Linked DNA regions of Homo sapiens: region 1 is linked to region 2. The links come from fine-mapping of genetic effects on gene expression. A gene starts in region 2. The other region holds a variant in brackets. All regions are shown on one strand. Distances are from middle to middle.

Region 1 (4,246 bases), 150 kb after region 2:
TGAAATCATAAAGAACATCAAAGATGTTCATCAAAGATGATATATCATTATATGTCATTATGATATATCATCTTTGATCCAGACATAAAGACTATGATGAAAGGGAAAAGGTACTCCCCAAATGTCTTGCTCTTCCACCAACCTCAGTTCAAAGTCAAATTCTACTTGTTGTTACAAATGTACAATACAGTGATCACAAAATAAATTAACAGTTGTCACATGCTGAGAAATTAGTGTTTCCGTAATATAATGTCAAACATTTACATTTTTACTACTAAAACTTTAATGATTGAGAAAATGTCAAAAATATTCTAGTATCCTAGAACTTCATTCTATGATGGTGATATGTAGCTTCAGCCAATTATTTATTTTAGTGCTGGACCAATCAGCCTAAATATATTCGGAACACTCAAGATTAATAAGTATATTTCATAAAAAGAGAAGACAGCAATCATCAAATGAAACTGTAAGAATGTTACATTACCTGTCTGTGAGAGGCTGTGAGGGCATTCGTTTACTCAATGATGGAAGATCCAGGGAATCTGGTTTCTTATCCATTCTGCAACATGCTTGAATATTTAAGTACTTAAATATGTGCACCTTACCCTTTAAACATATCTGTCAATAAAAAATAAAGATTTAATTATATAGTTCCAAATATAAATGACATCTATCATTTTAAACCATTCAATAGTCTCAAATTACATTGAGACATCACAATCTTGATTGATACTTTGCATATTTAAATAATTTGTACTTCTGACACCAGGTGGAAAAATCTGACAACACTGATACCAACTAAAATTCTATTGCCATCTCTGTTCTTATTGAAAAAAGTTAATTTTTCTATATTTCACTAGAGTTTTCTTGTCAAAAGCAGAATGTACAAACTATTAAACAATATGAAGTTTACAACTCATAAAAGTGGCCTTTATTTGAAAAAATGAAAAATATATATTCATTGGAATGGTAAGAAAAGAACAAATAATCTATGTGATTCTTTAAAGTAATCTCATCAGAACCACTAAGATGTTTGGCATAAAACCTGGAGAAGGCTAACATAAAAAATATAAATATAGGAAAAATGAATTTTTTGAAAGGTACGATATTAGGCTGGTGAGACTGAAATAATAAAAGAAAACACTGGTCAATTCAACTAGAATAATATCCTAAGAAATTACTTTCGTTGGCCATAGAGAAAATGAATAATGAGGAATAAAATACTATGTGAGCAAAGATACTCTGTATAAAAACAATAGAAAATGAGAGGTAAGAAAACTGTAAGTCAGCTTTATCAAGGTTAATTACAGTCACTAAGTGACATCAAATAAATATTTCTCAAAATTCTAATAAAAAATGTAACATTTTATGGGCTCACATAAGCTTACCTCACATGCAAAAAAATCAGCAAAGAAAACAGTAAGACAACAACATTAAAAAGCAATTATCATTCCAGGTCCAAAGGAAGAATGTTTCTTAGATAATTCTAACAGATACTAGGTCTGACTTGACCACTGAAAAATTTCATTTAAAAGGAAAATTAAAACTTTTGAGCTATTAGAATATAAATATATTGCCAATTAAATGTTGTAAATATCATTGATTTTTCTATTAATTATAAATTATTAATATTAAATACTATCAACTAAAATGTGCTAAAATTAAAATGTGAGGTAGTATTCTATTATACGTCCAAACTAAACAAAAATTTATCTTAATTACCAAATTAAGTGCTGGTAAATCACTCTCTTGTAAATTTTAACTTTTTATCATAGTACTTCATGTACACAGTTTTTAAATTTAAAAATAATTACAAAGCTGACAAGACATAATCCTCAATTCTACTTCTCCTTTTTTTTGTTTTTTTGTTTTTTTTTTGCTTGTTTTTGGAAAACAGCGTCTCATTCTGTCGCCCAGGCTGGAGTGCAGTGGCACAAACATGGCTCACTGCACCCTCGACATCCTGGGCTCAAGTGATCCTCCCAGATTAGCTGGGATGAAATTACAGGCACACACCACCATGCCCGGCTAATCTTTCTTATATTTTGCAGAGACAGGGTCCCACCATGTTGCCCAGGCTGTTCTCGAACTCCTGGGTTCAAGTGATCCTCCCACCTCGGCCTCACAAAGTGCTGGGATTACAGGCATGAACCACCGTGCCCAGCCCATTCTAATTATTTCAATCTCTAAGATCAAATTCCCACTTTAAACTCTTTTAGTTTAATTTCTATTTGCCCTCATATTTATTAATAACATGCTTCTACTGCTATTTGTTTTAAATTTTCCAATGGTAGATTTAT[T/C]GGAGTATCACTAAGGAAGATGAGGACTTGGATTTCTTACATTACCCACACCACCACCACCATCCCAGCCTCCCCGCTTCCTATCAATTCACATAAACATACTTCTCTCTTCAGAAGTATAACATAGTGGTTAAAGAGCATGGACTCTGCAGTCACACTGCCTTAGGTTGAATCCTGGCTCTAACCCATGCTAGCAATGTGACCTTGAACAAGTCATTTAACTTCTATGCCTCTGTTTTCTTACATGTAAAATGAGGATAATGACAGTACTTGTTTTACAGGGTTAACATAAGAATTAAATGAGTTAATATATGTAAAGCATTTTCAACAGTGTCTAGAACACAGCAAATACTATATAAATCTCTGCTATTATAACTATGTCACAGTTTTTCACTAAATCAAAATCTAGTGTTTATATTATTATGACCAAGAAAATATTCACAGATAAACTCTACAGAGTAATATGATTACATTTCCTTTCTCCTGTAAGTTTTTGTTTTTCCTAAAGTAATTAATGGCCCCATTTTTTCTTTTGAAAAATTTTCTATATGCCTATTATAAATTCATTCTTGACTCTGACAGAAGTATAAAACATCTCTCCATGTGGACAAACGTATCAAATCATCTCTTACTTTCTATTTTTTTTTTTTTTTTTTTGGAGACAACTCCTGTACTCCAAACTACTGACTGGCTGCTTACTAGGCCTATGCATATCTGTCAATCTCAGACAAGAAGAATTCCCCTTTTTTTAGTTTACTCCCTCACTTTGGTATAGTACACCCTCTGCTAGCATCCTAAGAAAGGGTACATGGGAGTAAAAATTTCTAAGATCTTGCATGTTTGAAACCTTTTTCTACCTCACATTTGATGACAGTTTGAATGTAGAATGTTAGAAATACTCCCTTAGTCCTCGAAGGTATCATTCCAACATCTGCCAGTTTCCACAACTGCTGCTAGAAAGCCATGCTGATTAGCACTCCTATGAATATGCTCCATTTTTCCTCTTTATTTTTTCTTCGAGCTTTATTAAAGTATGAGTTACAAATAAAATTTTTTTATATTTAAGTGCCATGTCCATCCCGCTGACCCTGACCCAATGACGGATGAAAGACGTACACTGACACAGATACTTTGCCTGTCAGTCTGGCTAAGGGGCTCTGCTGCCTGAGTCTGCAGCATCTGCCTCGATAAGCCGGGGAAGTTCGCATTTATTTAGTACTGATTAAATTACAAAGGTCTCGAGTAAACACCGCTAGAAGGTAATTAACACTGCCAACCCCTCGAGTAGAGAGCAATCATGCACTCACAGATGATAAAAGGTTGGGCTTAGGGCCACATGAGTAAACAAGCTATTTAGATAAACTCCCTTACATTCCTTTGTACCTACTTTAAACTATTAACTCAAGGTAAGAGGATTAGGCTGACTTCAGCTGAACTTTTTACTGAAGCTATGCAACCCCCCCAGCCTTCCAAGAAGGTTTGTGTCTATTTCCTATAACTATCTTCATAACTTTTCTTCTATAATTTTTCCCACCACCCTGACTGAACTCCCAAATTTAAGGTGTACAACGTGATGCTTTGATATACAGTTGACCCTTGAACAACACAAGTTTGAACTGTGCAGGTCCATTATACATGGATTTTCTTCCACCTCTGCCACTCCTGAGACAGCTAGACCAACCCCTCCTCTTCCTCCTCTTCAGCCCTGTTCAATGTGAAGACCATGGGGATGAAGATCTTTATGATGATCAACTTCCACTTAGTGAATGGTAAATATATTTTCTCTTCCTTATGATTTTCTTAATAACATTTTCTTTTCTGTAGCTTACTTGATTGTAAGAATACAGTAAATAACATATAACATATAAAATATGTGTTAGTCAACTGTTTGTTATTGATAAGGCTTCCAGTCAACAGTAGGCTATTAGCAGCTAAGTTTTTTGTGA
Region 2 (4,246 bases):
TTCTTCCAATGGCAATCTTAACACTGGATGGGGTGAAAACAGATATAGCAGGATGCATAGGAGACAGAAGCGGGTGTGGAAGCTTTTTATATCCTAATTAGAACTATTGAGATATGGGAATTGGAGCGGACACTAAAGTCAGGAATCACAAAGTAACACCTGATGATCACTCTGATACGGCAAATGCATGCTTTACTTACCTTCCATGTTTCACTACCAATGTTTCGGTATTTTAGTTCATATTCCACTGTGCATTCCTTAAAATGATCCAGAGACAGTGGGGGTTGCCATTGCAAATAGAGATAACCTAAGTATCCGGGATCCACTATCTCAAAATCCTGAGGAGGGTTAACTGAAATAAATCAATAAAACACTTTTATTTTTTCTGTATTTTATGACAAATATTGCTAAATCTAGATGGCTTCCAAATGTGCACCAATTGATTAACAGATAAACAAAATGTGCTACATGCATACAATCAAATATTATTCAGCCATAAAAAGACATGAAGTACTGATTCATGCTACAACATGGATGAACCTTGAGAACATTATACTAACTGAAAGAAGCCAGACACAAAAGACCACATATTGACATAGTTCCATTTCTATGAAATTTCAAAATAGACAAATTCATAGAGAGAGAAAGTAGATTCGTGGTTGGTAGGGGCTGGAGGGAGAAACAATGCAGGGTGACTGCTTAATGGGTTTAGGGGCTGTTTTACGGGTGATGCAACTATTCTGGACTTTGATAGTGGTGATTGTTGCACAACTTTGTGAATATACTAAAAACCAACGTATAGTAAAGAGTTTTACTATACATGTATAGTTTTAAAGAATATAGTTTTGTATAAAGAGTTAGTTTTGTGTAAATTATATCTCAGTAAGGCTGTTAAAAAAATCTAGATTACTGCTATATAGTTGTTCCTTCTTTGAGAAATCACATATGCAAAATGTGACTTTGCCTCACTAGGTATTAATTTTTAGAGAAGCAAAAAATTCAATGTGGCTTTATCTCTGTGCTCATGTACGCCAGAATTTGGTCTAAGATGGGAACATTTTATTACAAAAATCTGTCTAACAATAACAATAACAAATAAGAACAACAAATAATAACAAATAATAACTAACATATCACTATAATATAAATATATGTATTTAATTATATTAATTATAATATAATATATAATATAATAATATACTATAAATAATTTTAATTAATTAATAATAAAACATTAACATTATATTAAATAATATAATATAATTGAAAAATTAAATAATTCTAATTATTTTTAAATTTTACGTTAAATTTCTGTACCTTTTTAATGTATCTAATTGTCATAAAAGCTAAGGATAGTAGCTAAGGATAGTAATTAAGGAACTGTTCCAGTTAGTTTAGTACCAGGCAATGAGGTTTCAGATACTTAATCTGTTAAAAAAGACTATACAAAAAGGTATGGAGAGTGTTTTTAATTTGGCATTTATCGCACAAAATGTGTGTCAACATCAGTTACCTTATACAAGAAAGTGACTAGTAAGAACATAGCTTTTTTTCATGAACTTCCTGAAATAGTTTCAATAACAATTCATCTACTAGTTAGTTATGCACTTCCATAAGGCAGGTCAAAAAGACAGTTAATTTTCCATTAAAATCCATTTAATTTTACTTTTCCTAATTTAAAAACTATTCCATTAAAATCCATTTACCTTTTATCTCGGTGTCTGAAGATGAAGTACAGCCAAATGTTGTGCTTATCAGAAAGGTATATAAGCATCCGATAGCCAAGCAAACGAAAGCCATTTCTCCGAGATTTAAAACCTTGATATTGCCTCTCTATGAAGGAAAAATATAACATTTTAACTTTATCTTACATCAAATAATCAAACTAAACGTGATTAAAAATACTTTGGAAAGCTCTCTGTGTGCTTCTCTACCAAGAACTGGGAAAACTGTGTCCACCTCAGACCATGGAAACAGAAATAATCAAGTTAGGAACCAATATAATTGGAAAGAAAGGATTCTAGTCTCATCCTGCTTACAAGAATAAAAACAAAGCTAAGCAAAAACCCTTGTAGCTCCTCACCTCCCCGCCGACAGGCACACTTCTGACCAGGTTATGGCGACTTCAAATAGCCTTCATCCGGAAGACCGTTAGACTCACGAGAGTGTTCTTACTGGTTCACAATGGAGTTATGATATCATCCATCTCCATAGCAACCGTCTCCCCTAGCAACACATAAAACACAGTCAAATACTCTTTTCTGAGGGGAAAAAAAGAAAAAAGAAAAAGAAAAAAGTATTTGAAAGTTATTTCGGCCGGGCATGGTGGCTCATGCCTGTAATCCCAGCACTTTCGGAGGCTGAGGCGGGTGGATCACCTGAAGTCAGGAGTTTGAGACAGCCTGGCCAACATGGTGAAATCCTTTCTCTACTAAAAATGCACAATTAGCCAGGCATGGTGGCGGGCGCCTGTAATCCCAGCTATTCGGAAGGCCGAGGCAGGAGAATGGCTTGAACCCGGGAGGCGGAGATTGCAGTGAGCCAAGATCCCACCATTGCACTCCAGCCTGGGCAATAGAGCGAGACTGTCTCTAAATAAATAAATAAAATAAAATAAAATAAAATAGAAAGTTATTTGACCACTGAGAAAGCTCAGAACCTAAACCGAAGCCTCAGAGAGTTCAAAACTTTGCTCTGTTTCCTCATAAATATTTCTTTTTTTAGTTTAAAAAAAGTGTTTATTTAGCTCTTTCGCCCCCTGCTGGACGATTGACTTTCTTCTTTGCTCCTTTTTTCTTTTAATTACTTCTTTTAATTAAAATTTTTTATTTCCATCTACTCTCATTATTGTTCCACTTTTTCCTGTGTTTCCTTTATTAGTAAATGGCATCGCCATCCTTCCAGTTGCCCAAACCAGAAACCTGGGAGTCTTCCTCAACTCCTCTCCCATCTAATCTCTCCATTACCACTACCACTTCCTAAATGGAGGATCTTAGCAGGGATCTCCTTATTCAGTCTTTCCTGCCTCTGATCCATTTTCCACACCATATACAGCAAGAGTGACCTTTCTAAAGGGCAAATCTGAACTTTTCATCTCTTTCTTAAACTAAAACAGCATTTCATTGCCATAGAATACAATTTAGTCATCTTTCTGTTCTTGGATATTGGTTCTTGACGGATATGATCAAAATTTAAAGGATTCATGCCTTCAAATAGCTACTCAATTAAAAATACTTTGCTTTTCAGGAAAAACTACTACTCCCAATTCCATACACTTCTCTTCGAATCTATATTCTGGAACCAACAATTTCACATAAAGTAAAGGATTAAAAGTCACTCAAAAGAAAAGAAGGGACTGCCCTTCTTTTCTTGTGCATAGATTAATTCAATAGGACAGACCCTCTCTTCCACCCCACCCTCTTCCCCCTACCTGATCCATCTGTAATATTGTAACTTTGGTAAGCCTCAATGGCTACTTTATAGAATCTTAGGATCAAATTTTTAGAACCAGTATGTATATTACAGACAAGGCTAGTCAAATTCTCTTTTATAAATTGGGCAGTAAAACTCAGACTTGCCCCACCCAAGATTACACAGCAAATTAGTAACAAAGCTGGAAGTAGAACAGAGATCTCATGATGCCCAGTCCTGTGCACTTCCACCCCATTCTGCTGGGTCCCACAGGCATGACTCAGGATTATGAACGCTTTTCCTCTGGAACCCCAGTGTTTAAATCTTCCTTTAATTAGCAAACCAAGCTGAATCAACACCATGTTATTTTAAAAATTCTGCGCCTCATAAAATCAGGAGAGAATGTCATTTCTCTCACTGAGGCCCAACAAATCTCTCTTTCTCCCCAATTCCTCTCTCTTTACTTGCCAGCCAATGGCTGCCCACTAATGCATCTGTAAGTACTAGGTAGATTTGGCTAACAGAAGGTTATGGATCTTCCACAGAGCTACCCTCAGAGATTAAGATGAACACACTGGTTACTACTGGGATCAGGGCAATAGGTCTGACAAAGAGAAAACCTTCCATATTACCTTTAAGGACTAAGGGCAATCAGGCTGCCCTTACAATGCTCTCAGAGAGATTCTAACAAAATTCTCTCTCCCCTATCGATCTGTCCTTTAAGATTTCGTAGCATTATGTCATGTACAGCATAAATGCTAAGTAAAGAGTTTAAAATCATTTGCTTCTATTCCATTTATAGGCTATGAAATCTGACTCAGGCTATCAAATAGCA

Which allele goes with the higher level. Positions count from the first base shown, and alleles are read on the strand shown. Sizes are in standard deviations (SD) of each study's normalised expression.
For the expression in thyroid of the gene that starts at base 2,147 in region 2, C is the low allele of the variant in region 1 and T is the other (large effect, 1.0 SD a copy in GTEx).

Evidence for each region. PIP is the estimated chance that this variant, and not a neighbour inherited with it, causes the effect.
Region 1: its variant is the best candidate, but not a certain one, in a credible set for the expression of IL13RA2 in thyroid (GTEx, PIP 0.71).

What each region holds. Positions count from the first base shown.
Region 1 is chrX:115,169,815-115,174,060 of GRCh38, forward strand. It overlaps LRCH2 (leucine rich repeats and calponin homology domain containing 2), which reads right to left. Exons shown (of 21, transcript NM_020871.4): 6 at 485-618. Among named protein-coding and RNA genes, the nearest start is that of RBMXL3, 17 kb to the right of the region's middle. The variant T/C (reference allele first, on the strand shown) is at 2,301.
Region 2 is chrX:115,015,470-115,019,715 of GRCh38, forward strand. It overlaps IL13RA2 (interleukin 13 receptor subunit alpha 2), which reads right to left and starts at 2,147. Exons shown (of 10, transcript NM_000640.3): 1 at 2,084-2,147; 2 at 1,707-1,833; 3 at 201-352. The coding sequence starts at 1,800.